Regions from separate parts of the Homo sapiens genome. Here region 1 is linked to region 2. Evidence: fine-mapped expression QTL. Tissue or cell type: whole blood. Region 2 holds a variant in brackets; the other region holds the start of a gene. All regions are shown on one strand. Distances are from middle to middle.

Region 1 (8,000 bases), 49 kb before region 2:
AGAGGCAGACATAAGAATCCAGTTACCTTCTATTATGTCACACATTAGTTTTGCAAAAATGCGAAACAGTGCCACTTCTGCCGGGCGCAGTGGCTCACGCCTGTAATCCCAGCACTTTGGGAGGCCGAGACAGGCGGATCACGAGGTCAGGAGATCGAGACCATCCTGGCTAACAGGATGAAACCCCGTCTCTACTAAAAATAAAAAAAAAAAATTAGCCGGGCGTGGTTGCGGGCGCCTGTAGTCCCAGCTACTTGGGAGGCTGAGGCAGGGGAATGGCGTGAACCCGGGAGGCGGCGCTTGCAGTGAGCCGAGATAGCGCCACTGCATTCCAGCCTGGGCGACAGAGAGAGACTCTGTCTCAAAAAAAAAAAAAAAGAAAAAAAAAAGAAACAATGCCACTCCTAGGATAACTGTTATCAAAACCAGGAAATAAGTGCTGATGATGATGTGGAGAAATTGGAATCCTTAGGTACTGCCAATGGGAATGTAAAAATGGTACAGCCACTGAAGAAAACAGTATGGTTTCAAAAACTAAACATAGTACTATCCTATGACTCAGCAATTTTCACTTCTAGGTACATACAGTATCCCAAAGAATTAAAAGCAGGGATTCAAACAGACATGTGCACATTAATGATCATAGTAGTAGTATTCACAATAGCCAAAAGGTGGAAGCAACCCAAATGTCCACTGACAAATGGATAAACAAAATGTGGTATATACATACAATGAAATATTATTCAGTTTTAAAAAGGAAATCCCGACACATGCTTCAAAACGAATAAACCTTAAAAACGCTATACTAAATAAACCAGACGCAAAAGGACAAATATTGTCTAATTCCACTTATATAAGGGACCTGAAATACTCAAATTCATAGAGAAAAAATAATGGTTAACCAGGGATTGGGGGAGGAAGTAATGGGCAGTTATTGTGTAATAGGTACAGGGTTTCAGTTTGGGATGATGACAAGTTCTGGAGATGGACAGTGGTGTTGGCTGTACCTCTCAATTGTACACTTAAAAATTATCAAAATGGTAAATTTTGTTATATCTTACCACAATTTTAAAAAAAAGGGAAAAAACCCCACAATGTTAATCTTCTCACTGATTGGGGGGCGGGGGGGTTGGTTTGGAAAATAGTTATTTTTCATTAAAATCACTATTTATGCACCTAGCCTATTTATTAGTTTTGTAAATTAACAACTACTTTAATTTTTTTCCAGCTTTAATGTCTAATATGGTAAATATAGACAGATATACCACACAAACAGAAGCTCTTAGGTCCACGGTAATTTTTGAAAGGTAAAGGGGTCCTGAGAATAAAAAGTTTGAGAATTGTTCTTTTTTTTTTTTTTTTTTTTTTGAGACGGAGTCTTGCTCTGTCGCCCAGGCTAGAGTACAGTGGTGCGATCTCGGCTCACTGCAAGCTTCGCCTCCCGGGTTCATGCCATTCTCCTGCCTCAGCCTCCCGAGTAGCTGGGACTACAGGCGCCCGCCACCACGCCCGGCTAATTTTTTGTATTTTTTAGTAGAGACGGGGTTTCACCGTGTTAGCCAGGATGGTCTCGATCTCCTGACCTCGTGATCCACCCGCCTCGGCCTCCCAAAGTGCTGGGATTACAGGCATGAGCCACAGCGCCCGGCCGAGAATTGCTCTTATATGAAGATTTATTCCCTCCTCTCACCCCTGCATTATGTGAAGTCTTCATTTCTTGGTATAACTTCATTTGACAGCTATATCGATTGCAGCCTGGAGACTAGCAAAAAACGACAGGCTGAAATATGGTCACCAATCACCACATTAACTCTTTGTAATTAACCACTGTCGCCTGCCTGCTCCCTAACTCTACGGACTGAGCAACACAAAGCTCCATCCACACAGACGAGTGGCAATGTGCAAAAGGGAACTGTAGAAAGCTTAAATGCTGACATGTTACAAAGTAGTTTTGTTGATAGCTAGCAAGAAGCACACATTTTCTTTATTCTGTTGAATCTTCATTTGGATTTACAGTTCTGGGCAGATTTGGAAACGGGGATGGTGGCGGCATTGTTTCCGAAAACCAGCGCATCCGTGCAAAGAATTTAATTCCCTCACCATCTTGCTACTGGTCTGTTGCAGTGGGGTGTGGTTAGAGGGCTAGGAAGCAATCCAAAACAGCAGCTCAGGCTGCCCAAAGCCGTGTCCAAGCGATCATTTTCTCCATTTTGGGCCAAGTCAATTTGCACCGGCAAGAGGCAGAATGTTTGTTTTATGGGGAGGAGGAAAATAAAAAAGGAAGTCAGAGAGCATGGACGGAAACAAGCAACACCACCAAAGAGGTTTCATCTCGGGTGGATGTTAAACGATTGGAATGCTAATAATGGGCGCGAGGAGCAAACACAATTGTTCTGAGTCCACAGCTGCGGCACTTTTAATGACAGGTCTGTAGTTCTGCATTGGGATTGAACGTGAAATGATTTTCTTATCCAAACTATTTGCATTCATTTTGGGCCGCGTCTGTGACCAGCCTCGCTGACTGCGGCTGAGGCAGTCCCAAACAAAGAGGAATGGACGTCCTCCCGAGGGAGCGGAGGCGGGAAAGGTGGCCCCAGGTGGCCGCGCCAGGTGTCCCCCAGGGGTCCACCTTGCAAGCCGCGGGGAGGGTGCGTCCCGGGAGCGTCGGAGAGGCGCGGTCGGGAAGGGGTGGGTCCGGGCTCCAGGCACCACACGGCGAAAGACCCCGCCCTGCCCACGGCCAAGGTTAACCCGCGCGCTGGAGGTACCTGCGGAGGCTTCGCACAGCCAAAAGGCACCGGGCGATCATGGGAGCGCTGAGAGGCTGGCGGCGGCGGGCGCGTGGTCCTTCGGCGTGGGGCGGCGAGGCGGGCGGCAGCGCCTGGGCGCCCGGGAGTCTCGAGCCGGCCTAGCCGCAGAGGCCACAGTGGCTGCCTGGCCAGCGCCCTCCCACGTGCGGCAGCTCCACGCCGGCGCCTACCAGCCCCGCCCCGCGCCGTGCCCCGCCCCAGCTCGCGTGTCTGGCCCCGCCCCAGCCCTCGCGTCCGGCCCCGCCCCAGGGGCGGTGCTGGCCAGACCCTGCCGCCTGAGAGAGAGCACAGCCTGGTGGGTTCTGGGGTCTACGGCCTAGGGGCCGGGGAAGTTTGCGCCGCCGCGACCAGTGCTGCGATCCCGAGCCGGGCTCCAGCCCCGAGGACCAGGGGTCGGGCGGGCCTGCCTACGGAACCCCGCGGGCCAGCAGCAGTCGTCTCGCGTCCTCCTGCTTGGTAAGGGGCTTCTGTCTGGCAAGGGTGCGCCTCCCGCCGCTCCGGACCGGGGCCCGCACCGGCACCCGCTGCACACCGGGCAGGGCCGAGGCGAGGCCGGGTACCTGAGGGAGGACGGAAGGGAGGGGGAGCTCGATGCGCTCTGGGGAGAGGAAGGGGGAGAAGCCTATTTCCCTCTTCTCACCCCTTTTCCCCCCATTCTGTTTTTACCTTCTGCCCTGGGGCCTTATTTAGTGCTTATGACCCCGTGGCCTAGAGGCTGACATCGCCTTTAAAATAACTACACAAATAATAAACATTATAGCGGCGGGTACCACACCCTGGCTTTGAATTAGGGAACCTGGGGAGCAGATGGATGATGCGATTTGGTGGAAATCAGCCATGAATGCCGCCTGGCCCTGCGCCACTGTTTGGATGCGATAGTATTCCATGTGAATGAACATGACCGGGAGCTTCCAGCTTGTCCACGAGAGCACAGCCTCTGCAGGGAGCGCCGGTCGGCTTGTAGTATCCATCGACTTGGGCAGCGATTTCCTGACATGTCTGCTGATTAAATAGAAATGCCATTTTTATTAAGAACGACACTCACCACTTGAATAACCTTTCGCGAATGTGTTTCCTCATCAAATAACTCTCAACCTACAAAAGTGGGTAGAGTGTACATTATTAATACTTTTTTTAGATCCCATGAAAAAGAGGAAGATGCTTGGTATACATCAGCTTTTAGTCAGCAGTATGAAATGCCTCTTAACTTAGTACTGAGGCCTTTAGGGGATTTCTGTATGGTGAGATATGCAGTGACAGTCTAAGCTTATGCTGTACATGTTTTGAAGACATTTTTACTTATTCCAAGATTTAACATACTCGTATACCACTGGGTATTAATGAAAATATGTAATAAATTACCTTCACAATACTTTGTGCTCTCCTGACTCTTTACAAAGAGAAAAGATGAAAGGTCATACAGTTTTGTGTTTTGTTTTTACCTTTAATACACTTTATAACCCATATCATCTTTGTAATTTATGACTTTCCTGACTGATTCTTTAAAATAACTTAGTTCAGTGTTTTCATTTTTCTTATCAAGGAAAAGTGTTTAAGCTTCTAAAATGTCATCTATCAAGCACCTGGTTTATGCAGTTATTCGTTTCTTACGGGAACAAAGTCAGATGGACACTTACACCTCGGATGAACAAGAAAGTTTGGAAGGTATGCATCTGCTCTTTGTGTTCATTTATATTATAATTATAAACGAAGACTAAAATAGCTGTAAGCCCAACTTGATGATCTATTGTAACATAATCAGAATTTTTTTTGATCTTTCAAGAGGAGAGGCCTGACTATAAGGTTATCGTATTTCCATTTTCTGAAGCTTGTTTTGTTTGTTTTAACAACAAATTAAGAGGACTATTGTTCATTTATTGAACAAATACTATATGTCAGAAGTATGCTGTTCATATTATAGGCAATTTTTTCTTCACAGCAACTGTTATGTTAGTATTATCCCCATTTAACAAGTGAGAAAATAAAACCAGGGCCAGGCTTGGTGGCTCATGCCTGTAATCCCAGCACTTTGGGAGGCCGAGGCAGGTAGGTCATTTGAGGTCAGGAGTTCAAGACCAGGCTGGGCAACATGGCAAAACCCTGTCTCTACTAAAAATACAAAAAGTAGCCAGGTGTGGTGGCACTTGCCTGTAGTCCCAGCTACTCAGGAGGCTGAGATAGGAGGGTGGCTTAAACCCAGGAGGTGGAGGTTGCAGTGAGCTGAGATCACACCACTGCACTCCAGCCTGGGCCATGAGCGAGACCCTATCTCAAAAAAAAAAAAAAAAAAAGAAAAAGAAAATGAAACCAAATAGCGTAAGCAGATAACACAGCTGATATGTGATAAAGCTGAGATTTAAATCCTGGTTAATACTCTGAAGATCTTGTTGTCTCCATTTCCTAATAGGAAAGCATCCAGTTTAGAAATAATATATAAAAATACCTGAGTCATTTTAATAGCACTATGTAAAAGTCTAATAATTATACCACTAGTGAGATCTGACCAGTGCCTAATTTGGAACTTGAAATGGGAGCATTTCACCTGTGTTTTACGTTAACTTTAATATTGGATTCGGTAATCTGTAAAGTTGAACAGGATGTGGGTGATAGCATCATGTGTTTCCTCGACACCGTCTTTGTTCTTCATGTTTATGTGTTATAAAATTTAAATTCAGTACAACCATAACAAGGTAGAATTCTGCAGATGGGCTTGTGGAGGTTCAGTGAATCTGGTGTCCCTGTGGCCTAAAGTCTTTTATTTATTTATTTATTTTTTGAGACAGGGTCTGTCTGGCTCTGTCACCCAGGCTGGAGTGTAGTGGCACAATCTCGGCTCACTGCAACCTCCACCTCCTGGGCTCAATTGATCCTCCCACCTCGGCCTCCTGAGTAGCTGGGACTACAGGAGTACACTACCACACCCGGCTAAGTTTTGTATTTTTTTTTGTAGAGACAGAGTTTCGCCATGTTGCCCAGGCTGTTCTCAAACTCCTGGGCTCAAGTGATCCACTCGCCTTGGCCTCCCAAAGTACTGAGATTACAGGCATGAGCCACCCCTCCCAGCCCCAAAGTCTTAATTATTGCAGTGAGAGTGCATTTGGAAGAACTTAATAAATGACAGTATAGTTATAAATCCCATCTTGAAACTGCTTCTATAATTTCAACAAGCATTTCCCTGTGAATATGCTTTTAGGAGGTGGAGATGAAAATTGGGCATTTGCTCTAAACCTCCTTGCAGTCTGGTTAGTTGATGTCTTTCCAGGTGGCAGTGAGAGGAGCAGGTGATGCACAGTTGGAGAACATTGCAATCAGTCCATTTAATATTAAGGTCTTTTTGTTCTCCTTGATGATTAGACTATGTGAAAATAAAGTTGATTGGTTATCTAAGGAGAATGTTAGTTATGATTGCTCTGTAGCAAACAGATAAATGCAGTCATTTAAGAAAAGATGTTTCTTTTCTAATCAAAAGCAGCATAAAAGTTTTAAGGGCCAGAAAGAAAATTGAGGGTTTTTTTTTCAAACCAAGATGTTATGTCCTATTTTTAGGATGGTATTCAGCCAAAAATATGTGCCTTCAGCTGTTTGTTATATATGGCAGTCAGAAAGGGTGCCAATTGTTTTTGACTGACCCCTATTTTTGACTCTGTGAGTCTAATTTAATTGAACATGAAATCATGTGGAGGTGTCTGCCCACCTTCTAGACATTTTTAAAAGCCCTAGGAAAGAAGCCTCAGTTCTAATACCAGCTTTACCACTACTGTGAAGCTGGTATATCATCAGCTTTGTCTTGCCATCAGATTATGTCACCCACTCCTCTTAATTATTGTCATCTACTGACATTTGCTTCATTCCTTGACTAATTGTGGTTCCTGCTCACTGTCACTCTCTCTAGCACTACTCCTATTTAGTTCTTGGCAATTGCAATATACTGATTGATGATTATTTTAGTTCCCTGGCTCTCAGTTATTGACCTCATCCAGTGATCTCAAACACTTGATCATATTCTAGATCAGTGGTTCTCAACTTGGGGGTGATTTTGCAATATCTGGATACATTCTGATTGTCACAACTGGGTGAGGCGGGTGGCTGGTATTATTGGCATCTAGTGAGTAGGTAGAGGCCATGGATGCTGCTAATGCACAGGACAGCCCCTGACAAGAAGAAATTACCTGATCCAAAATGTCAGTATGCGGAGATTGAGAAAGCCTTCCCTAGACTTAATCATTACCAGAATTGCATTCCTTCCCTAATCTCTATCCCAAACATTTCACTTCCTGACCACTATTGCCTGTCTTTCCAAGATTACTCCCTCTAGAATCCCTACTCCAGCTATTCTTTGACCCAACCAGTACCTCCAATCTGTTCATGCCTCACCTTTCCCCACACCTCTTCTTACTCATCTTAAATTCCATGGTTGATAATTATAATTATTCCCTTGTATCTCCTTCCCTTTCTTGCAAAGCCCAACTTTGTTTAAATCCAACTCTCCACCTACTTTGTGCCCAACTACTCACACCCACTCATGTAGCCGTAAATAAATGGAGCAAAACACACAACTTTGCTGACTAGTCCCACTTTAAATTCATGACTGTGAACTTCAAGTAGACCTTTAATGCTGTCAGGCAATCACAGTATCTGTTCTAAGTTCATTCATACATTTATTTTCCTAGATGACCATTTTAACACTTTCTCATATCTTCTCAAACCCTCAAACCTCCTTCACTGTCCTCACTTTTAGTTGGTTACCTTGCTTTCTACTCCACCAAGAAAGCTGAAATAATAAGAAAATAGCTGGATATGATGGCACCCACATACTCGGCCTGCCTGCCTGTTTGACTAGCTATTACCATAGATGGACTATTCATGTTCCTTTCTAAATGGAACCCCTCTACTGGTATACTAGATCCCATCCTGTCTCACCTACTCCAGGATATCACTTTAGTTATTTTATTTTTTTAATCTTACATCATAAAATTTTCATACCCTACTGGATCATTTCCATCATCATATAAACTTACCATTATTCTCCCTTCTTCAAAAAAGCAAAAACAAACAGCAAATAATTACTGCTTAATTGTATGTCTCCCTTTGCAGCAAAACCATTTGAAAGAATGGTCTATACTTGCTTTCTCCAACTCCTCTCCTTCTATTCTTCTTAAACCCATTCTGATTAAGCCTTTGCCTCAATCT
Region 2 (8,254 bases):
TTTTCTGTTTTCCATTTGCTTGGTAAATTTTCCTTCATCCCTGTATTTTGAGCCTATGTGTGTCTTTGTATGTATAGTGGGTCTCTTGAATACAGCTCACTGATGGGTCTTGTTTTTTTATCTGGTTTGCCATTCTGTGTCTTTTAATTGGGGCATTTAGCCCATTTACATTTAAGGTTAGTATTGTTATGTGTAAATTTGATCCTGTCATCATGATGCTAGCTGGTTATTTTGCAAACTTATGTGGTTGCTTCACAGTGTCACTGGTCTGTATACTTCAGTGTGTTTTTGTAGTGGCTGGTAACAATTTTTCCTTTCCATATTTAGTGCTTCCTTCAGGAACTCTTGTAAGGCAGGTCTGGTAGTAATGAATTCCCTCGGCATTTGCTTGTCTGAAAAGGATCTTATTTCTCCTTTGCTTATGAAGCTTAGTTTGACCAGATATGAAATTCTGGGTTGGAAATTCTTTTAAGGATGTTGAATATGGGCCCCCAATCTCTTCTGGCTTATAGGGTTTCTGCTGAGAGATCTGCTGTTAGTCTGATGGGCTTCCCTTTGTAGGTGGCCTGGCCTTTCTCTCTGGCTGAATGGCAGGGTTCTTAACGTGTCCATGTACCTCCTGTGGGAAAGCCATGGATGGACTTTAGGAAGCTCATGGATTTTTCCAAAATTATATATAAAAATCTGTGTACATGTGTATGTGTGCATTTTTCCAGGGAGAGCATCATATTTTTCATGAGATTGGCACAGGAATCTGCCAATATATGAAAGGTTAAAAACTACTCTCTTACATAAAAGTGGTCCTAGGAAGATATCTAACATCTGCAGTTTGAGTATTTGGCCATTGTGGTTCCCTAGCTTGCCCCTCAGCATTGTCTGCCTTGTTTTCTATCTTTAGAGTTTATTTGATATAGATAGATAGATATAGATATAGATATCTCATGTGTTTGTCTTCTATTCTTACAAAACAACAAAATAATGTATGGGCCTTTTTGAGAACATACACGCTCTGGTCCAATATGTGGTAACTTTGATTTAGTGGGTTTAGGATGTTACCAGGGCATATCAAGCTCCTGGGGTGACTGTATACTTTGGATGAGAATTATTCTATCCATGATATGCCCTTGGAAGGCAGGAATCAGTTTTTATTCATCTTTTGTTTCCTTCAAAAAATGTGTCTTGCATCCATTAAATCTTCTGTTGAACTGAAATGCACAGATGACTCATTCCCAGTGAGATAAGTCTTTTTAGCAACTGGTAGTTTTTATTTTTCCCTTATCAAATTTCAGCCTTCTTACCATGCTAGCAAATACATGTTTTGTAGATCTTGTGACTTCATTTTTTTTTTTAAGAATGGTTACCCATTCTAGGACTCAGGTTATGGCATTGTAACAAGATGTGAAAAATGGAATTCTTTTAGTTTCAGATTTGGCTTAGGCTCCAAGCTGCTATGTACCAAAATAAGGTGTGAGACCACCATGTAGGAGTTGCAAAAGATGGGGATAAAAAACATGTTTTGTGACTCATAAAAAAGGCCAGGTTGATGGAAATTAAAACATGATTTTTGGAGAGAGCTATTAGAGTTTTAGGGCTCCCTATATGAAGGAATTAGGGAGGCTTGCTCTCATCTCAAGCCCTCACTGAGAAAGGGCTTTTCTGGTACAGAGACTTTCTACCTGATAGTTCAACTGGATAGCCAGTGGCAGAATTAGCTGTGTGGTTTGGGCAGTTACTGTACTGATGAGAGTGGAGCAGAGGTGTTTCCTGTGGACCAAGGTGAGCACACACAATTGTGAGAGAGTGTGTCTGAATATGTTCAAGAGGCTTTCCTGGAAGTGTGACAGGATCCCAACACAGAGAATCTCTGGAGGACTGCCAAGAACCTAAGACTGAAGGGAAAGTCATAGCATCCATCCAGAGGGTAAATTACCCTTTTCAAAGAATAGGTAAGAAATCTCCAGGGCCTAGGGAAAGGAGAAGTGTCTGAAGAACATGAGAAAGTACCCCATAAGAGAACCACAGTAGTTTTTGAATACCTTGCAAACTCAAAAAGCACCAATGCAAAACTAGTAAGATAATACCAGTCATCAAATAAGAACTTTGCTGCTCCTTTCACCTTTCCCTCCATTTAACCCTCAACCTGGAGGGCCACAACTCTTAATCAGCAAGCTGAGGGAAGAGGACTGGAAGTACTACAGGATAAAGAAGCACTATAGGCCTTGGTGTGCTGGCTCACACCTGTAATCCCAGCACTTTGGGAGGCTAAGATGGGCGGAGCACTTGAGGTCAGGAGTTCCAGACCAGCCTGGCCAACCTGGCGAAACCCCGTCTCTACTAAAAATACAAAAATTAGCTGGGCATGGTGGTGCATGCCTGTAATCCCAGCTACTTGGGTGGCTGAGGCAGGAGAATCACTTGACTCCGGGAGGCAGAGGTTGCAGTGAGCTGAGGTCATGCCATTGCACTCCAGCCTGGGTGACAGAGTGAAACTTCATCTCAAAAAAAAAAAATAGCCCTATAGGACAGCGGTCCCCAACCTTTTTGTAACAGGGACTGGTTTCATGGAAGACAGTTTTTCCATGGACCATACCGGGTGTAGGGGGTAGGGGCAGGATGGGGAGAGGAGCGTTAGATTCTCTTGAGGAGCACTCAACCTAGGTCCTTCACATGCGCAGTTCACAATAGGGTTCTTGCTCCTATGAGAATCTAATGCTGCAGCTGATCTGACAGGAGGTGGAGCTCAGGCAGTAATGCTTGCTCGCCCACCGCTTACCTGCTGCTGTGCAGCCTGGTTCCTAACAGTCTGTGGCCCAGGGGTTGGGGACCGCTACTATAGGAAACAAAGCAGTCAATGGTGCCTCTTTTCTACTACAACCGGTCAGTCTGTAGCAGGCCCATGCTAGGAAGGGAGAAGTTTTACCTGTAAATGAAGCTTTATGTATTTGATTGTTACACTGAGACATTAATTGCTGAACTGGAGGTCATTTTATAGAACTTAAAGTGACAGGAGGATTGCTTACTGAAAAGTGACTGGAAAAGCATAGATCTGTTCTAAATTTCCTCTAGGTCCTAGATTGTGGGAGAAGGGGAAGAACTACTGCTGCAGAACTAGTTTAAAGGGATTGCAAAACACAGCATTTCATGTTTATAGCTCATACATCCTGCTTTTCCTGTGTAATGCCTTTAGCACTTATGGGTTGGCTCAGAGGCACCAATCCTGACTGGGACTTGAGGAAAGTTTTGAATTACTTACGAATCAGTCAGTGATCTTTCTGGTAATATAAGCAAGTGGTGGCTTTTCCCAACACCTCATAGAGAGTCTGTGAATATAATCTATTGTCTACAAAGATTTAGACTAAATTCAAATTTTACATAAATATTGTCGACATTACCAATTTGAGGGAAAAAATGTGATGCTTTCAAAATAGAATGTTTTAAAAGTATGTGTGCACATAAATATAATTCCTTGTGCCACTGTAAGCATGGGAAGGATTGAAATTGCTGGGCCCCA[T/C]GGAGCAAAGTCACATCTCTTAAAAGCTCGTTTGGAATGGACCTTCTCAAGTGTAGGAGATCCCTTAACCATACTTTTAAAGTTCCTATTTTTCCTTTTGGCTTAATTGGTCTGATAGCAGTAGTAAGTAAACTGCTGTCAACATCCTCAGTTTATAGTGTTGTTTGTAATCTCTTTATCCTCACCATGTCTTCTTAATGCCACTTTTTCTAGTACCTTCTCTCTTTTTACATTCCCCTTTACTTTGCATAGCACACTGAAACTCTACAAAATGTTAGTGCATACATGATTTAGCTTTCATTCTTCTAAAAAAAAAATCTTTGCTAAGATCCCTACATATTAACTGCCTTTAATGGGAGGTGCTGTTTTTCAATTCCAGGCGGCAAGTTTAATGCAGAACCCTCAAGTTCAACAGCTGTAAGTATATAGAAAGAGCTTATTACACTTCCCCAACCCTTCCACTTGCCAGGCTCCTAATTTGAGCACATCAGCTCAAAAATGATGAAACTGTTCTGAATGACAGTCAGTTGGAGCTTAAAGCCACACACATTTGGCCTAGCCTCTGGTATAACATGGGTATTTTATTAACTTTTCCTCGTCCAGTTGTCCTATTTGTTAAGAATATATACCAATCCCAGTGATGTATTTCTTGTGTACTCTAGAATGTCAGGAATGATGACAAATGCCATTGGGGGACCTGCTGCTGGAGTTGGGGGCCTAACTGACCTGTCAAGCCTCATCCAAGCGTAAGTATTATTTAAAACAGAAATAGTGAAGATGTATTTTATGTTTTACAGCCTATCTCTATGGTGAGGGGTCAGGGCTTTCTTTTTAAATGTTTATCTTTTACCGTTAGTAACTTTAGCCTCCTTAATGTTACTAAATCTGAAAGAAGTTCATGAATTACAACCACTTTTTAGACTGCAGGGCAGGAATCCATACCTAGATAGTCTGGCCAGCCCTGTCTGTTGAGAAAAAGAACCATGTTTATTATGCTTCCCCCCACCCCCACCCCCGCCCCCGGTTCATTATGCTTTATTTTTTGGGACTTTCAAGTACCAGCAGAATCTTTTTCTTCTTTTCTTTTTTGGCACCATCTCAATAAGGCAGGTGAGGGACAGATATTAGAAAAGTAGATAATTTATATCCCTACCCAATGGCTAGAGAAACTGAGGTACAGGTTAGTGACTTACTAAGGAACCCATAGCACATTCAGTCTTTTCATTTGCAGCCTAATTTTACTTGATTGTGTTGTCAGCATGAAATTAGGGTCCTTGGTTTTTAAGTGGGGGTATCAATACTGTATCTCTGCTTACAGAGGGTCCCAAGGATTGGTGACCTGGTACTTTGAGGGTATGGAGACAAACAGTAAAAATCATATGTCCAAATAAATTGTGATCTCATATATATATAAAGCTATTAATCCCCCATTTTTTCCCAATGAAGATCCAGGAAGTTTTTCAGCAGACTTCAAACTACTCAGGGACACAGATGAAGGTCAAATATCCTCTTAAAATATATATCAATTTAGGTACACATACATAGTTTAAAATCACTTGTTACATACTTTAATGTTCAGGCAATTCAGGAAATTTTTATTCAAACTTTTTCAGTGCCTGTCAACACTTAGAGGAACTACTTGCATCTTCTCATTACTTGAGCACATTGCCTTCACTTATATCAAATTGGCGAAGACAACTTTGCTTTTTGAATCTGTGTCTGATGCTCTCGCTGGACATTTTATATGAAGCCACAGTACCACTTGTTGTTTGTCAGCACAACTGTGTATCCACTTAGAATATTGCATTTTTAGAATGACCTTTAAATGGCATATAATGACATCTAACACTGGCAATAGAGGGTCACATACTACAATTTGTGTTAAACTTCTTAGTGTTTTTAAAATTACTTGTTAGGTGACCTCCAAAAGCATCCCAAACTGGGTGTTATATGAGACTATTAAGACTTGGGTATAAAAGCATTGTATTTGAGCACATACAATAAAAACATATACGTCTTACCCTTTGCTTCTTTGTCATTAGCACTAGAGAAGTAGATTTCACCCAGTTGAGGTACTTATTTTTTTTAGCATGGGTGTTTTGTTTCTTATAAAGAACACTGCATTGTAATAATGCTATATGGAGGCATTGGTAAACTTGTAGATTCTAAAGTCATGGCTCTGAAACTTGTTTTTATAGAAAAAAGCCCCCTTTAGGTAGCTCCTACATTTTCTGCATTTCTTTTTGCGTGGGTAAATGTGACTGGCAATTCCCTATTCAAACCACATTGCCTCTTTACTACAGGGGACAGCAGTTTGCTCAGCAGATACAGCAACAAAATCCTGAACTTATAGAGCAACTGAGAAATCACATCCGGAGCAGATCATTCAGCAGCAGCGCTGAAGAGCATTCCTGATTTAACCAGGGGCTCAAGCCCAAGATACAAATGGTTTATGGCTATGAATGAAGTATTTGTTGTAGATAGTACCCCCTCCCTCCTTCAAAAAACCAAACACCATATCTGATGTGTGAAAATAATGGAGGAAAACCTCTTGTGTATATTCTTAAAGAATAAATCTGTTTAGACAATAGGTTTATCACAAACAAACTCAAAACATAACATGACTCCTTTTGAAATGATCACTAGCCATGTTACGTGCCAATATAGCACTGGGATAAGGTTCCATTTTCAAACTTCTATCATATTTGTATATTAGACTTAATAGCAAAGCATATTTATTGAACTCTAGTAGGGCTATTTGTTGGTAAGCTCTTTAGCTCCAATTTCCCTTAAGCAAAGTTTTTTGAGAAGGGAAATGACCCAAAGGAAAGGTTTCCTATGCTGGTTGAGAAGAAGTGTACTTGCCACTGAGCAGTATGTCAGGAAAGAAGGAATATTATCTAGGTTTAGCTTTGATAAGTGCTATTAGTAATGAATATATAACATGGGAACCAATGTTATCTTTAATGTTGCTTGTTCTGGTGAACAGAGAATCTTAAGAGCTGTTAGAAAGTAGCACTTGATGCAAGGGATGTTTTGAAAAGAAAAAATTGGTAATGCGAATGTATAGAAAGTAAAGGTAGGATGCTCAGGTTTTCTGCATAGTTCTTAACTAATCTTGTCTGCAGTTTGGTATTGATAATATTAGCATGGCCACTTATGCTAAATACACAATAAGATACATTTAGAAATCCTTAATGTACTGGTTAGGTCAGTGGTACAACTGTTTGACTTAATTATCACAATTTCCCCAATGGTAACCTTACCTTGGAAACTATCAAATATAAATATACTTTAACTAAGCCAGTGACCTGGTCCTAAGTTAAGGATTTTCTAAATGGTATTTAATTGTGTGCCCATAAACACTGATTTTTTTTAAAAAGAAAACTTAGTAATTATTTGATGGATAACAAAAAGCATCTATCACTAACATTGCTTGTTCATGTAATCTTCTGTGATAATTTGGCTTGGCATGCCAGTCTTATAATTAACATAATTTAAATTTGATGCAATTTAAATATAACAGGAGACTTAAAATATTTTATTATAAATTAGATGCCATATTAGTTAGTGGAGAAAAGGGGCATTAGGTATTAATTGCATGGGTCTAACTACATTGATGATGAGAGTTTAATTCCAACTAGAGTATATTTTTTGTTTATTAATAATGAAATTGGTGCTGACATGTAATGACTTCACAAGTTTTACGAGGGAAAACTGAAAAAGGAAGTAATATAAATTTTGTGGGGTTTTTTTGAGATGGAGTCTTACTCTTTTGCCAGGCTAGAGTGGTGTTGCAATGTCAGCTCACTGCAACCTCCACCTCCTGGATTCAAGTGATTCTCGAGCCTTAAGCTCCCAAGTAGCTGGGATTACGGGCGCCCACCACCACGCCCAGCTAATTTTTTTTTTTTTTTTCTTGAGATGGAGTCTCTCTCTGTCGCCAGGCTGGAGTGCAGTGGCGCAATCGCGGCTCACTGCAACCTCTGCCTCCCGGGTTCAAGTGATTCTCCTGCCTCAGCCTCCTGAGTAGCTGGGATTACAGGCACGTGTCACCATGCCCAGCTAATTTTTGTATTTTTAGTAGAGACGGGGTTTCACCATGTTTGCCAGGATTGTCTCAATCTCTTGACCTCGTGATCCGCCTGCCTTGGCCTCCCAAATGCTGGGATTACAGGCGTGAGCCACCGTGCCTGGCCGCTAATTTTTGTTTTTAATGGAGAGAGTTCCACCGTATCGGCCAGGCTGGTCTCGAACTCCTGACCTCAAGTGATCTGCCCATCTTGGCCCCTCAAAGTGCTGGGATTAGAGGTGTGAGCCACTGTGCCTGGCCAGGAAGTAATATACAATTAAATGAGTAATAATGCAGATGATTAGGCCTTATAGAACCCTTATCAAAAGACTAATTGGCCGGGCGCTGTGGCTCATGCCTGTAATCCCAGCACTTTGGGAGGCCAAGGCAGGGGGGATCACCTGAGGTCAGGAGTTTGAGACCAGCCTGGCCAACATGGTGAAACCCACCTCTACTGAAAATACAAAAATTAGCCTGGCTTGGTGGCGGGCACCCGTAGTCCCAGCTACTTGGGAGGCTGAAGCATGAGAATTGCTCGAACCTGAGAGGCAGAGGTTGCAGTGAGCCAAGATTGCGCCACTGCACTCCAGCCTGGGTGACAGAGCAAGACTCCATTTCAAAAAAAAAAAAAAAAAGAAAAAGAGACTAAGAGACTAATTATTTTGTATCTT

What was found. PIP is the estimated chance that this variant, and not a neighbour inherited with it, causes the effect.
Region 1: SGTB starts here. The variant in region 2 is fine-mapped to the expression of SGTB in whole blood (TOPMed, PIP 0.96).

What each region holds. Positions count from the first base shown.
Region 1 is chr5:65,717,183-65,725,182 of GRCh38, reverse strand. SGTB (small glutamine rich tetratricopeptide repeat co-chaperone beta) reads left to right here and starts at 3,074. Exons shown (of 11, transcript NM_019072.3): 1 at 3,074-3,266; 2 at 4,354-4,475. The coding sequence starts at 4,376. It overlaps NLN (neurolysin), which reads right to left and starts at 2,978. Exons shown (of 13, transcript NM_020726.5): 1 at 2,769-2,978. The coding sequence starts at 2,809. RefSeq lists enhancers at 1,714-1,793, 1,566-2,387 and silencers at 2,664-3,273, 3,344-3,393, 3,454-3,503, 5,548-5,744.
Region 2 is chr5:65,667,918-65,676,171 of GRCh38, reverse strand. SGTB (small glutamine rich tetratricopeptide repeat co-chaperone beta) reads left to right here. Exons shown (of 11, transcript NM_019072.3): 9 at 3,891-3,928; 10 at 4,174-4,257; 11 at 5,815-8,254. The coding sequence ends at 5,926. Among named protein-coding and RNA genes, the nearest start is that of TRAPPC13, 47 kb to the right of the region's middle. The variant T/C (reference allele first, on the strand shown) is at 3,512.